4 separate regions of the Homo sapiens genome follow, and regions 2, 3 and 4 are each linked to region 1. Evidence: fine-mapped expression QTL. A gene starts in region 1. Each other region holds a variant in brackets. All regions are shown on one strand. Distances are between the middles of the regions. Region 1 holds the start of ACSM1 (acyl-CoA synthetase medium chain family member 1). Region 2 overlaps ACSM1 (acyl-CoA synthetase medium chain family member 1). Region 3 overlaps ACSM1 (acyl-CoA synthetase medium chain family member 1). Region 4 holds the start of ACSM2B (acyl-CoA synthetase medium chain family member 2B).

Region 1 (5,154 bases):
TTTCACTGATTATCTGTCTATCTATCTATCTATCTATTACCTATCTATTATCTATCTATCATCTATTTATCTATCTATTACCTATCTATTATGTATCTATCGTCTATCTATCTACCTATTACCTATTTTCTATCTATCTATCATCTATCTATCTATCTATCTATCTAGATATATAAGAACCTGATCTCCAAGTGTTGAGGACTGAAAATCAGATATCTATATGTCTATGTCTGCGTCTATCTCTATCTCTGTATGTATGTTAAGCTTCATTTCTAAATCTATTTCTGTATCTATATACCAATATTTACATTTATACCTATATCACTATCTGTGTATATCTATACATTAATATTAATGTCTATAACAATAACACATGTACACTGTAGTCATGTGCCACAATATGATGTCATTGTCAGTGATGGATCACATATACAGAGTGGCCCATACAATTATAATGACATATTTCTACTGTACCTTTTCTATGTTTCAATACACAAGTACTTACCATCGTGTCATGACTGCCTACAGTATTTAATACAGCAACAAGCTACATAGGTTTGTAGCCTAGAAGCAATGGGCTATAGCATATCGCCTATATGTGTAGAAGACTATGCTTTGTGGGTTTGTGTAAGTACACTCTATGAGTTCCCATAATAACAAAATCACCTAACAATGCATTTCTCAGACGTATCTTGGTTGTTAAGTGATGCATGTCTCTATCTCTATCACTATCTCTGTCTCTATCTCTATCTCCGTCTCTGTCTCTGTTTCGATATCTATTTCCATCCACATCTGTCTTCAGATTTGACTTCACAAAGCTTAGTTTGTCTATTTCTCACCGTGCTGGACATAGTAAGTGCTCAACAAAAAGTTAGATTCTTCCCTTCTTTGTCATAATTCAGAAAACTGAGTGATGAAAGTCAGAAAGAGAAAAGCCAGTGTGCCCACAAATTATCTGAGTTATAGAAAAATGTATTTTTTCTTTCTCAAGTATTTACTATAGATGTACCATGTACAGTTTTAGATACTATTGGAGATTAATTAAACTGAAAGAGTTCCTACCCTGTTAGAGCATATCATTAAAGCACATCCTATGAAATCATTTTAAAGAACAATTTTCTGAACTGCTTAAAGTGCATTCTGAAAGCAATTTGACATGGTAGCTTTGAGAGGCAGCTGGGCTCCCCACTGTATTCCCAGATACATAGTGCCTTGAACAGCTCCTGCAACTAAGCTTTGACTTCACAGGACTTGGGACTGATAAAGCTATTTAATGAAGCAACATACTTACTGTGTTATAGGGTATCCCAGAGTTACAGAGCCAGGGCTAGATGTTTGTCTCTGTTGTCTAGCAGCTGGGTCTTTGGTGCTGTTCATGTCTCTGAACTTAAGCGCACAGTAGTAATACCTTCTTCCCAGCTCCCCATAAGGATTAGTGTGATAATTTACTTGCTGGCACTGAATGAAGTGCACGGTAAGGACTCAATAAATGTTGAGGTACCTTTTAACTCCCAGCAAATTCTGAAGCCAACCCCCTCCCCATTAGATGTTAACCATTTTTTTTGAAACTGTCACCTGGACTGGAGTGCAGTGGTGTGATCATAGCTCACTGCAGCCTCAATCTCCTGGGCTACAGTCATCCTCCTGCCTCAGCCTTTCAAGTACCTGGGACCACAGGCATGTATTACTATGCTTGGATAATTTTTTTTAGAAGGCATTCACTTTATAGAAAGTGAGCCAACTTCTGCATAGATAGAAAAGATTTCCTTCAAACATTCATCTCTGACTTTGTGCCTGTCTCCCACGGCTCACCACATTCAGAGCTGCCTGACACTAAACCAGTCCCCATTTACATGCCAGCCACTGTGCTAAACATATTACATGTACGTTCCTATTTATTCCTCTCACCCAATATCACCATTGTCATTTTGCCTCTAAAATGAAGTGCCAAGAAGTTAAGTGACTTGCCCAAGGTCACTCAACTTAAAAGTAGCATTGCCAGAACTTAAAATTGGATTACACACACACACACACACACACACACACACACACACACACACACACACAGATAGAAGCTGACCTTCACCTCTGTCTTACCTGGTACTGTTTAGGACGTAGCTGAACTAGGTCCCTGGTAGGTATGGAAAAGGAGGTTGAGCTCTCTTTTGTAGGTTCAGTTCTCTCTGATCAGGTGATCCGCAGGATTGTGCACCCAGCAGAACTTGGCTTCTGGCCACAGCGAAGGGGGACCTTGAACAGAGAACTTGTTAGGAATTGGGTAATTCAGTAGGGGGAGGAGATGCTCAGGTAAAATAGGACAGAAACAATTACAGGCCTCCACGGAGAGATAATCACTTAGAAAACAAACCATGTGGGCCGGGCGCAGTGGCTCGCGCCTGTAATCCCAGCACATTGGGAGGCCGAGGCGGGCGGATCACGAGGTCAGGAGATGGAGACCATCCTGGCTAACACGGTGAAACCCCGTCTCTACTAAAAATACAAAAAATTAGCCGGGTGTGGTGGTGGGCGCCTGTAGTCCCAGCTACTCGGGAGGCTGAGGCAGGAGAATGGCGTGAACACGGGAGGCGGAGCTTGCAGTGAGCCGAGATCATGCCACTGCACTCCAGCCTGGGAGACAGAGACTCTGTCTCAAAAAAAAAAAAAAAAAGAAAAACAAACCACGTATACGAAGTCACCTCCAATTCCGGTGGCATGGCTAGGGGTGTGAATGAACTAGATCCAATGGTGCATTTTCACTAGTTCTCTGTGGCTAACCTGCTCCCCCTTCCCAGCCCTACATCACCATAGTCTCCCTTAAATGACAGCTGAGAGTCAGTGTAGCCTAATGGATAAGAGCCTGGGCTCTGGAGGTCTGGAGGCAGAAAGGTCTGAGTTTGAGCCTTAGGTCTGCCACTTAACCTCCATGTCATCTTTGTGGACCTTCTTGCTCTGGGCCTCACCTCCCTTAATTGGTTTTCGGTTGCTTTTGAGACAGAATCTCATGCTGTCACCCAGGCTGGAATGCAATGGCATGGTCTTGGCTCACTGCAACCTCCGCCTCCCAGGTTTAATTGAGTCTCTTGCCTCAGCCTCCCAAGTAGCTGGGATTATAGGTGCCCGCCACCACACCCAGTTAATTTTTGTATTTTTAATAGAGACAGGGTTTCATCATGTTGGCCAGGGTGGTCTTGAGCTCTTGACCTCAGGTGATCTGCCCGCCTCAGCCTCCTAAAGTGCTGGGATTACAGGCATGAGCCACAGCACCCAACACCTACCTTATTTGTAAAATAGGAATGATAACAACAATACCTACCTCCCAGGGTGTTTTCTTTGCTTCTTCATTTGTTTGTTAGAACTAGATGAAATAATTTATAAAAAGCATGTAGCACACGGTGCTGGGCATAGTCGATGTTGGCTCTTTTTATTCACTTGGGATTCTCAGAGGAACAATTTGGTATCCTGGTAAAATGCAGGGTCTTTGGAATCCCAAAGTCTTGAGCTTAATTAAGTCCAACCTCAGGCACTCACAAGAAAGCTCTTGGGTGAACCATTTTCCTTTCAAAGCTTGGTCTTGACATTTGTAAAATGAAGCAGGATTTGTTAATAAGATTTGTTGCATGGGATCATTGAAAGGATTATGTGACACCAAGCCTGTAAAGCACCTGGACCAGGCATTTAGATGGAGGGTTGATAGTGATATTGCATTGGATAAACCAAGGTAGTCATAGGTAGCGGCTTGTACTATGACTTTTCTACTGGAGCCATTTTTGGGGCATTGTTAGAGAATGAGGGATCTCCAGTATTTTCATTGAAGCTGGGAAGAAATTATTTCTGATCAAAGTCATGGCTAAAGATTTCTGGAGACACCCAGGACATTCCTGACAGGACCGTGTGGCAAGCTAGGATAGTTTGGGTTTTTAATATTTAGCTTTCTGTGGCCAGTCACTGGAGAGGTGAGAAGGCAGGGCTAGTTGACTGGCCATGGTAAGCTAAACCTTAAACACCCAAAGCATCAAAGTACCAAAAAACAAAGAAACGAACAAACAAAACAACTAACCAAAAAACCTCTGTTACTAAAGAGAAGGAGCAGCCACTTTTCGGAAAAGAATGGAGACGGGGGAAAAGCCCTTGACACACTCTCTGCATCTGAGTAGTTCTCCCCTGTGGAACTGCAACATGAAGGCATGGACAAGAAGACAGGCTCTGGCACCAGGCAGCCTGGGCTTGAGTCTAGCTTTTACCAGTTACCAGCTCTGTGACATTGAGCAGATTTCTTATCCCTCTTTTCCTCAATTTTCTCATCTTTAACAAGAGGTATACAGCGGACAAAGGAAAACTCTCCAAACATTCTATGTGTGCTCCTCTTTCATTTCCCAACCTCTCTTAAAGCTAAAGTGAGGCCATTAAACTCTAGTTCTGAACAATAAACTCCATGTGGAAGTGTTACAAGTCACTTCTGGCCTAGGGCATTTATTTAAGAGCAGGTATGAGTTTTCTGTACTCTCTTCCCCTGATTCAATGCTCCTGGAAACCATATATGGAGATAGTGACATCGTAAAATGGCAAAGTCTCTATCAGCCTTGTTCTCTGAGTGACTTCATGTAGCTAAATATCCTACCAACCTCAGCTTTTTGAACTTGCTATCGTCTGCTTATTATAGAAAACCTATGATACATTCATTCATTCAGTGGATATTTAAGGAACATTTAGGCGTGCTTTAAACATGTAAGACAAGGTTGGTGCTCTCAAGAGGTTTACATGCCTATGATAGAAAGGCAAAAGCCAATAAGCAAAAAGTCAATTAAATAAGCAAGAGGATTTCAAATGGTGATACTGCCAAAAAGAAAACAGAACAGGGCAATATGATGGAGAGAGTGTGGGGAGGTGGCTAAGGATGTTCTCCCTTAAGAGGTGACATTTTGAGACCTGAAGGAGGAGAAGCAGCCAGCTAGGGAAAAAGAACTCCAGGCAAAAGCCACAGCAAGTGCAAAGCCTGAGGCTGACATTTTCAAGGCATAGGTGGGGGACTGGGATGGCAGATTACTGAGTGAGAAGTATGATAAAGTGTGAGGTCAGAGACACAAGCAGGAGACATGCCATTAAGGATCTTTATGGACATAATAAGGAGTTTGGATTCTATTCTAAGTGCAATGG
Region 2 (5,154 bases), 48 kb before region 1:
TGAACCATGTGGATGCCCTCAAGATGTGCATGACCATGGAATGGGAGACTGGAGGGACACTTGGATTAAAACCTTGGACCGGGTTCGCCCAGTATGAGCCATGAGCCAGCTGAACCTGAATGCAAAGAAGGAATGAAGACCGACTAGAGTCATGCATGCTTAATGGACCAATGCGTCCTGACTCAGCTCTTTTCTACCTGAATACAAGAGACCCTAATAGTTAGGCAGGAATATCATCACCTCTATTCAGCATGAAGTTACAGAAGATAGACCTTCATCCTTCTGTAACCCCTAGGATTAAGGGTCCTCTTGTAAAAGGGAAAGGGGAGATATGTGGGAAGCATTCAAACCAGAGTGACTCCAGTTTGAATAAGGGCTAAGAAAAATGAAGCTGGATGACCAACTGGCAATTCAAGCCTTCACAGCCTGCAATTGCCTTCTCAATTAAAAGAGGCCAACTTTTATGCTACTAATTACGATATCTAGTAATAATGATAGTAATAATGACATTTCTCTTTTACAAAAAAGAGAAAGGGGGCATGTTGGGAAAAAGCTGAATATTGGGAAGAAAACTGAGGCAGGGCTTGCATGTCTGACATAATGTCCTCTGGAATGTGTCTAGACTTTCTGGCTCCTTGCTTCTAGCCTTCCTAGTCTCCTAGATCCATTGTATTCCCATTATCACAAGTAGCAGAACACGTTCCTTATAAATGCTAAACTATCACAGCTGTTCATCATGCACCTGCCCTTTTGACCTCCTCATTCTCACCACCTGTTCCTTTGTTGGATTACCAATAAATAGCATGGGCTCCCAGAGCTCAGGAACTTTGCAGCCTCCACAGTCGCGATGGCCCCCTGCTCCCACTTTACTTCTCAAATTGTCTTTTTCTCAATCCTTTGACTCTGCCGGACTTCATTACCCCCACCACCTGGTGTTGGGCCTGATAACCCCAACATTTCTATGCCTTTCTCATATCCAGGAGAGACTGAGAATCTGACAACTTTAAAAGTCTGAAAAGAAACATTTACCATCTATTCTCTCTGAAGGAGTCTTCATGTACCTAACAAGGCCAGCTTTGCTAGCTAATATTCTTCTTTTCTCTCTCTCTTAACCTTTCTTGCCACTCAACCTGATTTACCAACATAACCTGTTTCTGGCCATGCTCTCAGTCTGCATTCTTTACTGTAGCCTCAGGATGGTAATGTAAACCAAAAATGAAATTTTAAGCAGCCCCAGCCAACAGAATGGACCCCTCCTCTCAGTCAATTGCATTCCAAAGTTATCCTAAGACAAGAGGTCAGGCCATGATGGAAATGGGTGGTTGGATGTACCTCATTATACCCTCCTTCCTTTGGAATTCAGGCAAAACTAACCAGCATTAACATTAAAACAGAGACCTTAAGATAATTTATTATCTCTGAAGCCTGCACCTGGAAGCTTCATCTGCATAATAAAAACTTTTATTTCTACAATCCTTTATCCTAACCCTCTCTTTTATTGATTCCAGGTCTTTAGATAAACTCAACCAACTGCCAATCAGAAAATCCTTCTATGACCTGGAAGCCTCTGCTTTGAGTTGTTCCACCTTTCTGGACCAAACCAATATACACCTTACGTGTATTAATTGATGTCTTATGTTTCCCTAAAAATATAAAACCAAGCTGTAGACCAATCACCTTGGGCACATGTTCTCAAGATCTGCTGAGGCTGTGTCACAGGCATGTCTTTAACCTTGGCAAAATAACCTCTAAATTGATTGAGACTTATCTCAGTATTGGTTTGTAGTATGAAAATTTCTGTAAATCCTCGAGAAGTTGGGGTTTCATTCTGAAGGCTCCCATGTATACATGTTAAATAAATTTGCAATCTTTCTCTCCTGTTAATCAATCTGGCTCATGTCAGTGATTTTATAGTGAACCTTTAGGGGTCCAAGAGCCTATGGCCCTCACAGAATGTTGGTAGTGAGGACAAAGCTCTGTTTTATTTTATTTTATTTTATTTTAATCTTGCCCAAATTCCTACCTAAAGGGTCTAGGGAGTCATGCCCTACAAACCATAAATTCTCATCAGATGGGTTTTATTTAACCCTTTATATCATGACTTACTTTCCAATCTGACTCTGGCATACCATTATGAGACAAGGAAGAAAATCAAAATATTTTACCCCTGAACATATTTCTCTGCCATATCTTGAAACTGCCCTGCAAAGTCCCTTGTGGGAAAAGTCCACATTCTATAGAGAATCCCCTTTCCCATTTGTTTTCCTTCTTTCCTTTCCAGATCCAGGAGATAATAAACTAAGAGCCAGGCACTCTTTTAAATCCAGTAAGAAGCATTTTACAACCTGTTCTCTCTCTCTCTCTCTGATGTCTGGTATCTGACAGATTCCTCTGCACAATAAAACTTGGTCTCCACAAACCTTTATCTTAACCTGAAC[T/A]TTTCCTTTGATCCCAGGTCTTCAGATAAACTTAACCAATTGTCAATGAGAAAATGTTTAAATTTACCTATAGCCCGGAAGCCCCCACTTTGAGTTGTCCTGCCTTTCTGAACCAAACCAATGTATTTCTTAAATGTATTTGATTGATGTCTCATGCCTCCCTCAAATATACAAAACCAAGCTGCATCCTGACCACCTTGGGCGTATGTTCTCAGGACCTCCTGAGGGCTGTGTCACAGGCCATGGTCGCTCATATTTAGCTCAGAATAAATCTTTAAACATATTTTACAGAGATTCACTCTTTGTCAACAATAGTTTGGTGCCCAAACACGTGGGGCCTCAGAGAAGACTCAGGACCTTGAAGGAGTTGCCCAAACTTGGAGCTAAGGTACCAGCAGGGCCCACTGAAGCCTATTCTTTTGAGCTTCTCCTCTGGTGGAACTGGTAAGTCCTCCTGAACCCCAGACTTCCCTTTGGTTGACAGTCCTTGATTTATTCTGAGTTGGTTTTCTCCTAGGTAGTTGTTGTTTCAGGATCCTTATTCTAGTTCCGAGATGCATTCTAAATGGAATTCTCTCCTGCATTTTCTGCTAAAATTTATCTTGATTTGGTTCATCTCAGTGCATTTGCATGAGGAACTGAAGTGTCGTTTTCACAGATAAATGAGAGACTGAGTTTTTCTGCTCCAAAGAGAAAGGTCATTTGCTTCTCCTAGTCAAAAAGGTGCCCCTGGGTGATCAGGGGACTCGTGGGAGTGTCTGGGAGCTTGACCCCCCACAACGTGCAGCGGCCCTACAGGGAAATCCCCAACAAAAATTAATTTAAAATTGCTCATCCAGGAAGTGCATATAAAGGCTGATTACCCAGCATTTTGAGCCCTCTCAGAGGTCATAGACCTCTGGAGAGAGAAACCCAGACACCTAGGAGGTGGGAAGGACTCTGTAGTGATACACGGTGGAGTCCTGCCCACAAGCAGCATGCACTGATCCACCACACAAAAGCCCTAGGCTACAGCTCAGTTCCTCCTCTTAAGAAAAAAAAAAAAAGCAGGAAACAAAATCTAAGAATAAGGAGTAAACAAGGAGAATGAGAATGACCCTCTTTTGGGCACTCTGTAGGTTTTATGGCACCTCCACTTGCCAGAGTTTATATAAAATGGAAGTAATATGGTCTTTGTGCACATTTACATTAAGGAAGAAGATTCCTAAGGTCGACCTGCAGACTATAGAGTACATAGCTTCTATTTTCTTGTCTGCCTGCTTTAAAGCTGCTGTTACTTTTCTACTGAGATAAAAACCACCATTTGGATCTAACCGCTTTTTGCAAGCTGGCAAAGTTGTATTTATCCCATGGCTAAAGTACTGAAGTAATAGCTATGGGAACTTTTTGTGTGTGTGTGCATGTGTGTGCCTATTTAAAGCCTTCTATAATTTTATGTTCAATTGGCAGTTGAATTAATTTCCCTCTAGCATACCAGACTTTCTCTTCATACCTTATGATGTAAATTTTGCTATCTGATTTCACCTGAGTTGCCTTTAATATGCAAATTTAAGACGATTTAGCTGACAACTGCCTAGGGTAAGATTTTTTTAAATGGCAAAAACAAAAAGATCTTTATGAGTCTATGTGATGTGCTTCTACCAGCATGCCTAATACATGTATATATTTATGTGTGTGTATACAATATTTTCATGACTAAAAATATATGAAGAGGCTGGGCCCAGTGGCTCATGCCTGCAATCCCAGCACTTCAGGAGGCCGAGGTGGGCACATTACCTGAGGTCAGGACTTCAAGACCAGCTTGGTCAACACAGTGAATCCCCATCTCTACTAAAAGTACAAAAATTAGCTGGGCATGGTGGCACATGCCTGCAATCCCAGCTACTCCAGAGGCTGAGGCAGGAGAACTGCTTAAGCCCGGGAGACGGAGGTTGCAGTGAGCTGAGATTGTGCCACTCTAGCCTGCCTGACTGAGCAAGACTGTCTCAAAAAAACAAATAAATAAAATAAAATAAAATACTATATATATACACACAAACACACATATGAAGAGCTCTAATTAATTGGCTTTAAAAAGTGCTTAAATCAGATACTAAACAAAAAAAACTAGTCAAATGCTTTTTCAAGTTCATGTGACTTAAGTAAAATCTTTACTAAATAAGATTTTATTTTAGTAAGTATCTAGCCAGCTTTAAAATTATTGGTAAAATAATATCAGCAATGTCTTTAGAATTGTTAGAATTTTTTTTGCATCTATTGATCAAATGGTTTCATGTTTATTCCCACAGAATACTATAAAATTTGCCATAAGTGTTATAAACTATAAAATCCAGCCCAAGACAGAGTGATCTTTGATTGTATATGCTTATGAAATATTGTTGGCTTAAATGAAAACAGCTAAATACTGAATTATTGGTATAAATATCCTTAAAACTAACCATAAGTTTTATTACTTAAGTAAACACCTCAAATTCACAGCTATAAAAATCGTTAATAGAAAAATAACTTAAAATATTGGCTATCAATTTTTTGCAAATAACCTAGGTAAACTACTAAATTAATCAGGTACATGTAATGGAATAAATGCTTGTAAACACACTTGTCATAATTTAGGATTTAAGGTTATTATTTGATATTAAGTTTCTGGGTAATTTCCAATTTAAGAAATTTTTTAACATTCTTATTAAGGTAAAATATCTTTGTCTAATTAAAACCT
Region 3 (5,154 bases), 60 kb before region 1:
ATGCTAAGTAAGGCCTGTATGTTCCCCTTTGGTCAAAAGTATCACAAAGGAACCATCGCTCCCTTGAAACCACAGTGTGAGGATGGCAGTGACACCAGGACAGCCGCCAATGAAAGTGTCTTTAGAGAAAGGAGATGAAGTCTGAAATCAATTTCAGGGTCTGGTCATCCTTCCATGGCCAATATTGGGAGCTAAGATTTTCCTCTTTGTGGCCATTCCTATCCTGGGAGGGCCATTGCTTATTTGATCAGGAGTTTCAGCAGGTTTCCTTGTAATCCATCTCAGTTTTCTATAATCTCTGGTTTTTACTTTTTTTTAATCCTAAACCTACCATTTATTTGATGTGCAGAAGATGTGCAGGGCTTTTAATCTGCAGCTTTTCTCTCTGTAAAATGGGATAATAGAGTTCCCTGGAGGCTCAGCGAGGATAAGTGATTTGTTTACACTCTGTTGTTGGTAAGTGAGATGGTATTATTTGAATCCAGTCAAAGCCTATATTCTTGACTACAGTAGATCATTGAAACCCAAGTCTGATGGTTCTGAAGCCAGTCTTCATTCTACCCCAACATCCCAAAAGTTCCAGGTGGGTTCAGACAGGAAAGGATGGGAGAATGCACGGTGAGCTTCGAGTTGAATGAAAACTCATTCATTTCATTGAGTTAGAGCAAATAAAAGAGGACTTGAAGAAGCCTCAGGATGCAGAGCTCCCTGTTGGGATCCTTGGGGCCAGGATGGGGGCAGATGGGGGGTCATTACCTCATAGCACATGAAGAGGCTCACAGGCCTGACAGGTTTGATTCTGATGCCAATGTTTCCTTCTGTGTTAGGTGGCAGGATGCTGCCCTTGTCATCAATGACCTGTAGCAAGAGGCCTGTGAATCATACACTGCAGGAGGCCGCAGCCCTTCTGCCCCACCCAAGCACTGTCTGGTTTATGCATGGGACACCAGTGTGGATGAAATAACAGAGGAAACATCAGAAAATGGAATAAAACTGTCAAAAGCCTTTAAAATACGCAAATGTGAAACTCAAGCCAAGGGTCTATGTTTCATGAGTTAGTAGATGTCACCAATGTGTCTTCAAGTTGGAAAACAGTGATCAAAAAAAATGAAAAGCACCACTTGCTAGAGAGGGCTCCCAGTGCAGCCTCTAGGTATTCTTTCCTACCTACTGTGTGTGATGCCCTGGCTGCCAGGGTCAGCGGTGTTCATGCTCACAATAATGCAGTTTTCAACTGAGGCCTCCATATGAAACTGAAGGGATAAATGAGAAGAGAGGAGGAAGGATGACTGGAGCAGGGAAGTGCGGCTGGTGTTGTCACCTGGTGTCAAATTGTCCAACCCCCGCTGAGCCCTAACTGCTCCCTGCCAATGCCCTTAGGACCAGACCTGGACGTCGTAGGGTGGAGTGGCCTTCCCCATGAAACCCGGCTTGATCTTCATTCCCCAGTAGGTGGCACAAATTAGTCCCTGTTCACAAAAGAAAGAAGATTTGGGTTGATCAGAGAGGCCAGGCTGATCACAAAGCAGTCAGAATCATACACAGCATCCTCTGCTCAGAGATGTAGTATTCCTCTCAATGGATGCTGCCCAAAGAGCCCTCGTAGGGAAGCTGGAAGGCCTTAGTCTAGGCTCAAGGTGTTGACCCAACTCTATTCCACAGTCATTTTCTGCAGCCAGTGTGGTCTGGCTCTGTACTAAGTGGAGTCTACAGAATCCAATGGGGAAACAAAGAAAGAAGAAACAGGGTATTCCCCTGGCTGTGGGCATATAATGTGGGGTGTGGCATGCCCACCATTGAACAGGCATGTGTCAGTTTGCTAGGGGAAGACCACTAGTCTATCTAACAAACATTTACTTGGGGCTGTTGAGCAGTGATAGGGATTCTGCCACAACTTCTTGACTGATCCTGATGCCAACTTTTCCCCCTGTGTTGGGTGGCAGAATGTTGCCTTTGTCATCAGTGATCCGTAGGAAGAGGCCTGTGAATCTCACCCTGCAGGATGCCCCAGTGTGTGTGGAGGTTGTCTGGATTGCTTGTGCTGTTCTCTCTGTTAGCACTGCCCTATCTTCATCTTTCTTCCTGATGAACTTGATTCCTCCTTTATTGTTCTCACAAATATATTTATTTCTGTAGCTGCGTGCTTTACATTCAGACCAATGAGGGTTTGACCCTTGACTCCACCACACACTAAATGCATGCCAATGAATCCCTCTTGATCTCCTCCATCAAAGGGTAATAATGATAACACTTACCTCCCAGAGTGCTTGTAAGCATATGGAAAATTCTGCATAATACAAGGCACACACCACGTGTTCAATGAATGATGACTACTGGCTATTACTCAAGCTACAAGAGAAGTCAAGGGAAAGATTCTCTTTCTGCAGCATTTCTCCTATACTTCCATTGCAGCCCACAGGGCATTATAATTATTTTTGTTTGTCTGTTTCCTTCAGTAGATAATGAGCATCCCAAGAATAGAGACTGCCCTATTTATCCCTGAGCTTCCAAAATCTGGAACAATAGCCACCAAAAATAGCAAGGACCACAGCAGCTGCAAGGTGAGCATATACAACAGG[C/T]GGGACACCAGCCAGAGCATTATATACTTCTTTTTATTTACCTTATCACAATCTGTTAAGATTGGCATTATAATTTCCATTTAAAGGTGGGGGAGCTGAGGTGAGAAAGCATACATAATATCCTTATGGTCTTCAAGCTGTAATTGGCAGAGCTGAGACTTGGACCCAGGTCTGTGCTCCTGGGATAGGAAGATCTTTGCCCACTGCCACATCACTGCTCACACTGTAGGCATGTGAAAAACGTTGCACACATGAGTGAACAGATGTGAAAGTGTTTTCAGAAATTAAGCACCACCTAGTGCTGCAAATATTGGAGTCGTGGGTGGAGTGTGTCTTCCTGGCCCACCCTCCTCCTTGTCCAAATATGACCTGTGAGCCATTCAAACATAGGCCCGAAGTGTCAGCATTTTTCAGGTCTGGAAGCAGACAAATTAACTGAATTGCTATATATTTTTTACAAAATAATGTCAGCTGAGTATGTGAGTTGGCACTAAAGTAATAATTTTGCACAGGGCCTGGGATAGCAGTCATCCTTTATGTGCTAGAGGGATAATGGAGACAGAGGGAGAAAGTGGCTCTGTCCAGCATTGGAAATGGATTGCAAATATGTTGGAAGAGATGCTCACCCACACTGTAATTGATGAGGTCCTTGAACTTCCAGACATGCATAGTACTCCAAATGCCCCACTCACCTGGCAGCTCAGTGATACTCTGGAATGACACTGTTTGTGTGTACATGTGTTTGGCATATACAGAAAGTCCCTGCTCCTCACCCACCCTGCTAGTATCCCACAGTCAAACCTGCGAGTTGTCCTCCTAAACCCCAAGCAATGCACTTTTTGAGCCAGCTTCCTCCTGCCTCTGCAGCCCTAGGGAGGGTTAGTGGAGTTGACAGGACTTCCTGGAGGAGGTGGTCTCCATGTTGCTGGAGAGAGTCTCCTATCCCACCCACCCTCTGGGGATCCTCTGAGCTGATGATAACAGGGACAGTGTGAAAACGCCCTTAGACCCCTTTTTAAGGTTTTGTCCAAGAGTTTTAAGCACATTAGTCCCTTGGTAAGATGACGAGTTGTACATTTTCTTTCTGCAGATAGATTTGGGACAAATTAGCCTAGAACTCTAGAGCCTCTGGTTGGCATCAAACAATGCTGTGCATGCGATGGGGCTGTGTCCCGCACATGTGGCATAATTCAGCACATCTGCTGGGCTCAATCGCTGAGCACATCATGACTATCCAGAAGGGACCTTTCCACTATGAAAGGAAAACAAACCCCAAAATCACTAAGCCAAAGGGAAAACTCAAGTTGGGAACTGCATCAGTCAAACCTGCCTCTCATTTTATTCCTAAACAAGAGCTAAAAAGATAAAAAACAAAACAAAACTACATGCCTCCGCCACAATTTTCCCACTAAGAAATTCCTTGTGGGCCCCAAGATCGTTACTGTCAAACAGTTCTGCTAAATTTCACCCTGACATTTATAGCTCATCTTCACACGTATAGGACAAAGAACAGAACTCAAAAATCATCTCTCTGCTCACCTGAGACAAATATGTACCTAGTTGCTTTCTCTGACTTACGTTTATCTTATGTAAAAATGCAGATTCACTGATCTAGATGAATGCACAAGTGACTCTTCCTCTACCCTTCTCTCACATGTAAACAGCTGATCAAAGACTCACAAGAAGGCAACAATTTGCCTCGTAACTACCCCACCTTTAGAAAATTTCTTCCTTTTTCCCCAATATCTGCCTTTTCTCCTTTAAATATTGAAGCCCTCAAAATCATCTTTGGGGAAAGGCACAAACCTGTTTCCCAGATGCGTGTCATTAACCTTAGCAAAATAATCTTTTAAATTAATTGAGACCTGTCTCAGACACTTTCTGGTTTGCACCACCTACCGTTTCCGACTGCCCATAGTTCTCGTAGAGCAGAAGGCCCGTCCGTCTTTTCCACTCCTCCTGATCCTTGGGCAACACGACCTCCCCGCCAGTATAGCAGTGCTCCAGGGCAGGGAACCTGATGCTTAGAGGAAGACAAGGTGCCAGGCATTGGTGAGCCACCCTGGCTCTGTGCATTCAGAGCTCTTAAGTCTGTCACCCAGATCATTCATCCTTCTAGTTCCTCACTTTCTTATTTACTTTTTGGTCATTTTACAGTTGGCCATGGCCAAGTGGATGTCACTCACTTCCTGCCAGTCCCTGCGAACTATTCTGGCAGACGGTGGATGGGTGGTGGTGAGGCTATTGTGTTCAATTGGGAATGTTTGGATTAAATTTGGATATCAGTGTAACAAGAGGGAGAACTGTGTGTTTATCAGAACTCCTCTTGGGGAAGCATTCTGTATAGCTAAGAAGGACATTTTTATAATCATAATGGGGTAAAGGATGAGATCTTAAGGACATGCTAGGGTGATAATAGAACTATACATTCTTTTATGGAGCTTACACTACGCTAACTAAAGGGCTTTTGTATTTCTGAATGGGGAATGCATGTTAGGGATTGGAAGTGAATTGCTCAGGACATCAGAGCAGATTAAGCTGAGTAGGGAAAGAGAGAGGGAGAAGCATTACAGGG
Region 4 (5,154 bases), 120 kb before region 1:
CTCATTCTTTTCCAATCTATCAGGGGAACCAGCCCACAATATTTGAACATAGGTTCTTTCTATTTTTCCTAAGTGTCGGCCGGTCTGAGAAATAAAGAGAACGAGTACAAAGACAGAAATTTTACAGCTGGGCCTCTGGGGCTGTCATCACATAGTGGTAGGACTATGATGGTGACCCCGAGCAGCAAAACCAGCAAGTTTTTATTAGGGATTTTAAAAGAGGAGAGGGTGTACGAACAGGGAGTAGGTCACAAGGATCACATGCTTCAAAGGGCAGTAAAGATCACAAGGCAAAGGCAAAATTAGAATTACTGATGAGGGTCTATGTCCTGCTGTGCACACATTGTCTTGATAAACATCTTCACAGGAAACAGGGTTTGAGAACAGAGAACCACTCTGACTAGAATTTACCCGGCTGGAATTTCCCAATCCTAGTAAGCCTGAGGGTACTGCAGGACACCAGGGCGTATTTCAATCCTTATCTCAACCGCATAAGACAAACACTCCCAGAGCGGCCATCTATAGACCTACCCCCAGGAATGCATTCCTTCCCCAGGGTTCTTCCATGCTGGGAAAAGAATTCAGCAATATTTCTCCTACTTGCACATCCTTCTATAGGCTTTCTGCAAGAAGAAAAATATGGCTCTATTCTGCCCGACCCCGCAGGCAGTCAGACCTTATAGTTATCTTCCATTGTTCCCTGAAAATCACTGATATTCTGTTCTTTTTCCGGGTATACTGATTTCATATTGTTCAAACACACATGTTTTACAATCCATTTGTGCAATAGTAGTCCTGAGGTGAATTACATTCTGAGCTTATGAAGATAACAGGATTAAGAGATTAAAGTAAAGATAGGCATAAGAAACTATAAGAGTGTTAATTGGGAACGTGATAAATGTCCATGAAATCTTCACAATTTATGTTCAGAGATTGCAGTAAAGACAGGCATAAGAAATTATAAAAGTATTAATTTTGGGAAGTGATAAATATCCATGAAATCTTCACAATTTATGTTCTTCTGCCTCAGCTCTGGCCGATCCCTCCATTCAGGGTCCCTGACTTCCTGCAAAACAATCAATGCCCTCACTTTAACAGTAGATACTTGGCGAGGCTGTGCATGGTGAGGCTGTGCATGCACCTTTCATTGCAGGTCAGCCACTAACATGATAAGAGCTTATGTCTATTTTTCCACAATTTCAGTTCTTTCTCTACAGGAGATTAGACTCTCACTCAGGGCAATCTTGGCAGATTTGAGGCTCAGTATCTGCTTCTGAAGCTGGGAGATAGAATCCCCGAGTTCATCATTTTCTTTCATCACTTTATCCACTGAACTTAGGAGCAACCAACCAGCTTCATTATGTTCCTTAGTTCTCCACATATGGTCAAAGGTATGATGTATAGGGTCACTAAACTCCTTGCCTCTCATGAGCAATGAATCAGGAGTGTCAAATGCATTTATTTTGTATAACTCTTTAAACAGTTCACACCAAGGGCTATCAGTCTTCTCCATACTATTAGAATTAGAGTCCTTAGTATTTTGGGGTCTAATCATATTAAGGCACCAACTCCAGAAACCCCAAAACCAACAAAAGAACTCCATCCTTAATATTCTTTTCCTCTAGAACCACTTCTGGTACCAAAATCTGTATTAGTCAGGGTTCTCTAGAGAAACAGAACTAATGGAATATATATATTTTATAAACTCATATGTATAAGTAATACATATAAACTCATATATATAAGTATATATATGAGTTTACTAAGTATTAACATATGTATGTGTGTATATATATATACACAACTGTATATATATATACAGTTTATTCAGTATTAACTCACATGATCACAAGGTCCCACAATAGGCCATCTGCAGGCTGAGGTGCAAGGAGAGCCAGTTTGAGTTCCAAAACTGAAGAACCTGGAGTCTGATGTTCAAGGGCAGGAAGCATCCAGTACGGAAGAAAGATCTAGGCTGGGAAGCTAGGCCAGTCTCTCTTTTCATATTTTTCTGCCTCCTTATATTCTAGTCATGCTGGATTAGGTGGTGCCTACCCAGATTAAGGGTGGGTCTGCCTCTCCCAGCCCACCGACTCAAATGTTAATCTCTTTTGACAACACCCTCACAGACACACCCAGGATCAACACTTTGTATCCTTCAATTCAATCAATTGACACTCAGTATTAACCATCACAGTGTCTGA[C/G]ATTTCTGTCTCCTTTTTTTCTATGGAATAAGAATTGAAGATTACTGTACCAGCTCCTGAGCAGAACTACACATTGCCTTTGTACCTGCTGGTCCCTCTCTTTTTCCATAATAAGCTCTTCTTCATTCTTCTGGTCTCACCTCCTCTGGGATTCATCCTTCTCTGACCACCACCCAACTACCAGCCCCCTGTTACCACCTTTTTCCAGCTGCCCTCGTCTCTCCCTGTTGCTGCCATAAACGTGCCTTTTCCTCTGCCCAGTGTTTCCTCCTAAGACTTGGCAGGTACTGTCTTTCATGGTCCCTAGGAATTTCTGCTTTTCTGTGAGGATTTTTGCTCTTCTCACCAGCTGTGACTCTAAAAGATTGGTGAGGTTATCATGGATTATGACCCCATCAGCCCATTCCTTGAAACAGTGCTCACCTGCCAAGTCCTCTCAGGATGTCTTTCTGGAGAGAGCTTCGTCCACCCTCCTCTCCAGCCAGCAGCTCCAGAACTCCTACAGCCTTGGAAGAGAGCACAGTAACTCAAGCAGACAGCTTCAGAATCCCTGCACTGTCGGAAAGAGAGCTCAGCTAATCATTGACAGTGGATAACTTTGGAGTCTTACAAAGGGTAACAGCAGTCCTCCTAGCCAAGTTTATGGACATTACAACATTAGAGCATTTGAGGTCAACTGGACTTGCACTTTCAATCCAAGGGGCATGAAGCAGGTTTATGCCCAGGACTGACAGAAAATTATTGCTTCAACCCAAGAGAGAGAAATGGAGCTCACATAGGCTTGATGAACACTCCTTTAATTCTTTGTTTTGCTTGGTTCCAGCATACCACTTTTGCCTGGTTTTCCTCTTGCTTTCCTTCTCTTTTGCTGATTCCTCCTCATCTTTATCCACGTTCACTCTGTACATTATCTCATCAAATGTCATAGCTTGGATACCATGTGGCTTGCCAATGGCCCCCACACGTGTGTATCCAACCTGGTTTTCTCTCCTGCATCCTCATCTTCCTGACTTCTCCACCTGGATATCTAACAGGCATCTCAAACATACTTTGTCCAAAGCTAAGAGGTTGATCACATCCTTCCCTGGCCACTCTCATTCCAGGTATGGTTTTATCCATCTCAGCAAATGTCACCCCTATTCCTCTAGTTCTTCCAACATCAAATCTTAGAGACTGCCCTGACTCTTTTCTTTCTCACATGGATGTGAAAAAGCCATCAGATCCACCTGCAGGCTACACTCAGAGTCTGACCCATTCTCTTCCCTGTTCCAACCCAACCCAACACTGTCCAAGTAAGCCCAAAACTCAACAGGGAAAAAAACTCTTTATATCTCTTCATATTTATTTTATTTTGAAATAGTGTCTCACTTTGTTGCCCAGGCTGGAGTGCAGTAGTCTGATCACAGCTTATTGCAACCTCAATCTATCGTGCTCAAGCAACCATCCCACCTCAGCCTCCTGAGCAGCTGGGATTACAGGCACATGCCATTATGCCCAGCTAATTTTTTAACGTTTTATAGAGACGTGGTCTCACTATGTTCTCCAGGCTGGTCTTGAACTCCTGAACTTAAGTGATCCTCCCATCATGGCCTCCCAAAGATTACAGGCATGAGCCACCATGCATGGCCAACATTGTCTTATAGCTGGTATCAGCCCATGCTTCAGCTCTCTCAGGCTAGAGTTGCAAATTGGTGATCCTACAGTTCTGTGTCTTGGGGGTGGCCCCACTCCCATGGCTTCATGAGGCATTTCCCTAGAGGGAATTCTTTGTAGAGGATCTTACCACCAAGCATCTATGGCCCCTACATTCTGGGTGCCTGCAGAATTAATACCATTCTGTCTTTGTTAGTCTTCTGGGCCTGTGATGGGAGGAGCAGCCCCAAAGATTTCTGAAATGCCTTTGGAACCTTCTTCCTATTATCCTATTAGCACCAGGCCCCCTTTTGGTCATGCTTTAGCAGAGTTGTTCTGACACTTTCTTGGACTCCTCTCCTGAAAATTCTCTTTTCTTCTCTACCACTATGTGCAGGCTGATAATTATCCAAATTTTAATGCTCTTCTTCCCCTTTAATTATAAACACAGGCTTTAGGTCATTCCTTTGCTGTCACAATTTAACATAAGCTGTTAAAAGTAACCACATCACTTCTTGAGCACTTTGCTGCTTAGATATCTCTTGCATCTGACACCGTAGGTCATCACTCTTAGTTCAGCCTTCCACAAAGCCTTAGGGCATGGACACAGTGCACCCAAGTTCTTTGCTACAGAGTAACATGGGTGAATTTTGCTCCAGCTTCCAATGAGTTTCTCATTTCTATCTGAGATTTTTTGGCATGGCCTGTACTGTCTATATTTCTATCAGCATTGTAAAAAATTTAAATTTAGGACCTTCCAAATTTATCATGCAAAAGGGAAAACTTAAGGCCTGAAAGCTGACTGAGGTAACACAACTTCCCCTGATTCTGGTGCATGACCGTTGCTTTCTGACCTTTGTGTTGAGATGTTATACATTAACCAGACTCTTCTTTATTCAAAACTGCGCTAAACAAAGTGAAGATAGAGACCCTTGTGACTGTCTCCTTTTAATAGAATGTAAAACTATCCCTTTAGCGTGTAATCAAAAGTAGCCAATGAAATCTTATATCTGTATGTTAACCTTTTTTATGGAAAATGTTGTAATTTTGTTCAGCAACTTCATTTTGCTGGTATAAGCAATCCTCATTTTCCCCTACACCAGGAGCACAACACTGCTCACCATTCTTTGGAATAGCTGTGCTCCCTGGATGGCCGCACTCATACTTTGTGCTTGAATGAGCTCTTTTAACTAGATGCTGACTCTTTTGACTATTTTACGTTGACAGCATTTTGGTCACAACCATTTAACCAATCTCTAAGAAGTTTCAAACTTTCCCTCAACTCTTTGTCTTCTTCTGAGCCATCCAAACTCTTCCA

Evidence for each region. PIP is the estimated chance that this variant, and not a neighbour inherited with it, causes the effect.
Region 2: its variant is the best candidate, but not a certain one, in a credible set for the expression of ACSM1 in whole blood (INTERVAL, PIP 0.65).
Region 3: its variant is the best candidate, but not a certain one, in a credible set for the expression of ACSM1 in whole blood (INTERVAL, PIP 0.64).
Region 4: its variant is the best candidate, but not a certain one, in a credible set for the expression of ACSM1 in tibial artery (GTEx, PIP 0.58).

What each region holds. Positions count from the first base shown.
Region 1 is chr16:20,695,539-20,700,692 of GRCh38, forward strand. ACSM1 (acyl-CoA synthetase medium chain family member 1) reads right to left here and starts at 2,142. Exons shown (of 14, transcript NM_001318890.3): 1 at 2,098-2,142. It also overlaps a transcript of ACSM3 not described here.
Region 2 is chr16:20,647,197-20,652,350 of GRCh38, forward strand. The region is part of intron 7 of ACSM1 (acyl-CoA synthetase medium chain family member 1); the gene reads right to left. Among named protein-coding and RNA genes, the nearest start is that of ACSM1, 48 kb to the right of the region's middle. RefSeq lists enhancers at 449-1,013, 3,652-4,255. The variant T/A (reference allele first, on the strand shown) is at 2,439.
Region 3 is chr16:20,635,983-20,641,136 of GRCh38, forward strand. ACSM1 (acyl-CoA synthetase medium chain family member 1) reads right to left here. Exons shown (of 14, transcript NM_001318890.3): 8 at 4,479-4,602; 9 at 1,389-1,469; 10 at 757-858. Among named protein-coding and RNA genes, the nearest start is that of ACSM1, 59 kb to the right of the region's middle. The variant C/T (reference allele first, on the strand shown) is at 2,580.
Region 4 is chr16:20,573,580-20,578,733 of GRCh38, forward strand. ACSM2B (acyl-CoA synthetase medium chain family member 2B) reads right to left here and starts at 2,788. Exons shown (of 14, transcript NM_001105069.2): 1 at 2,628-2,788. The variant C/G (reference allele first, on the strand shown) is at 2,205.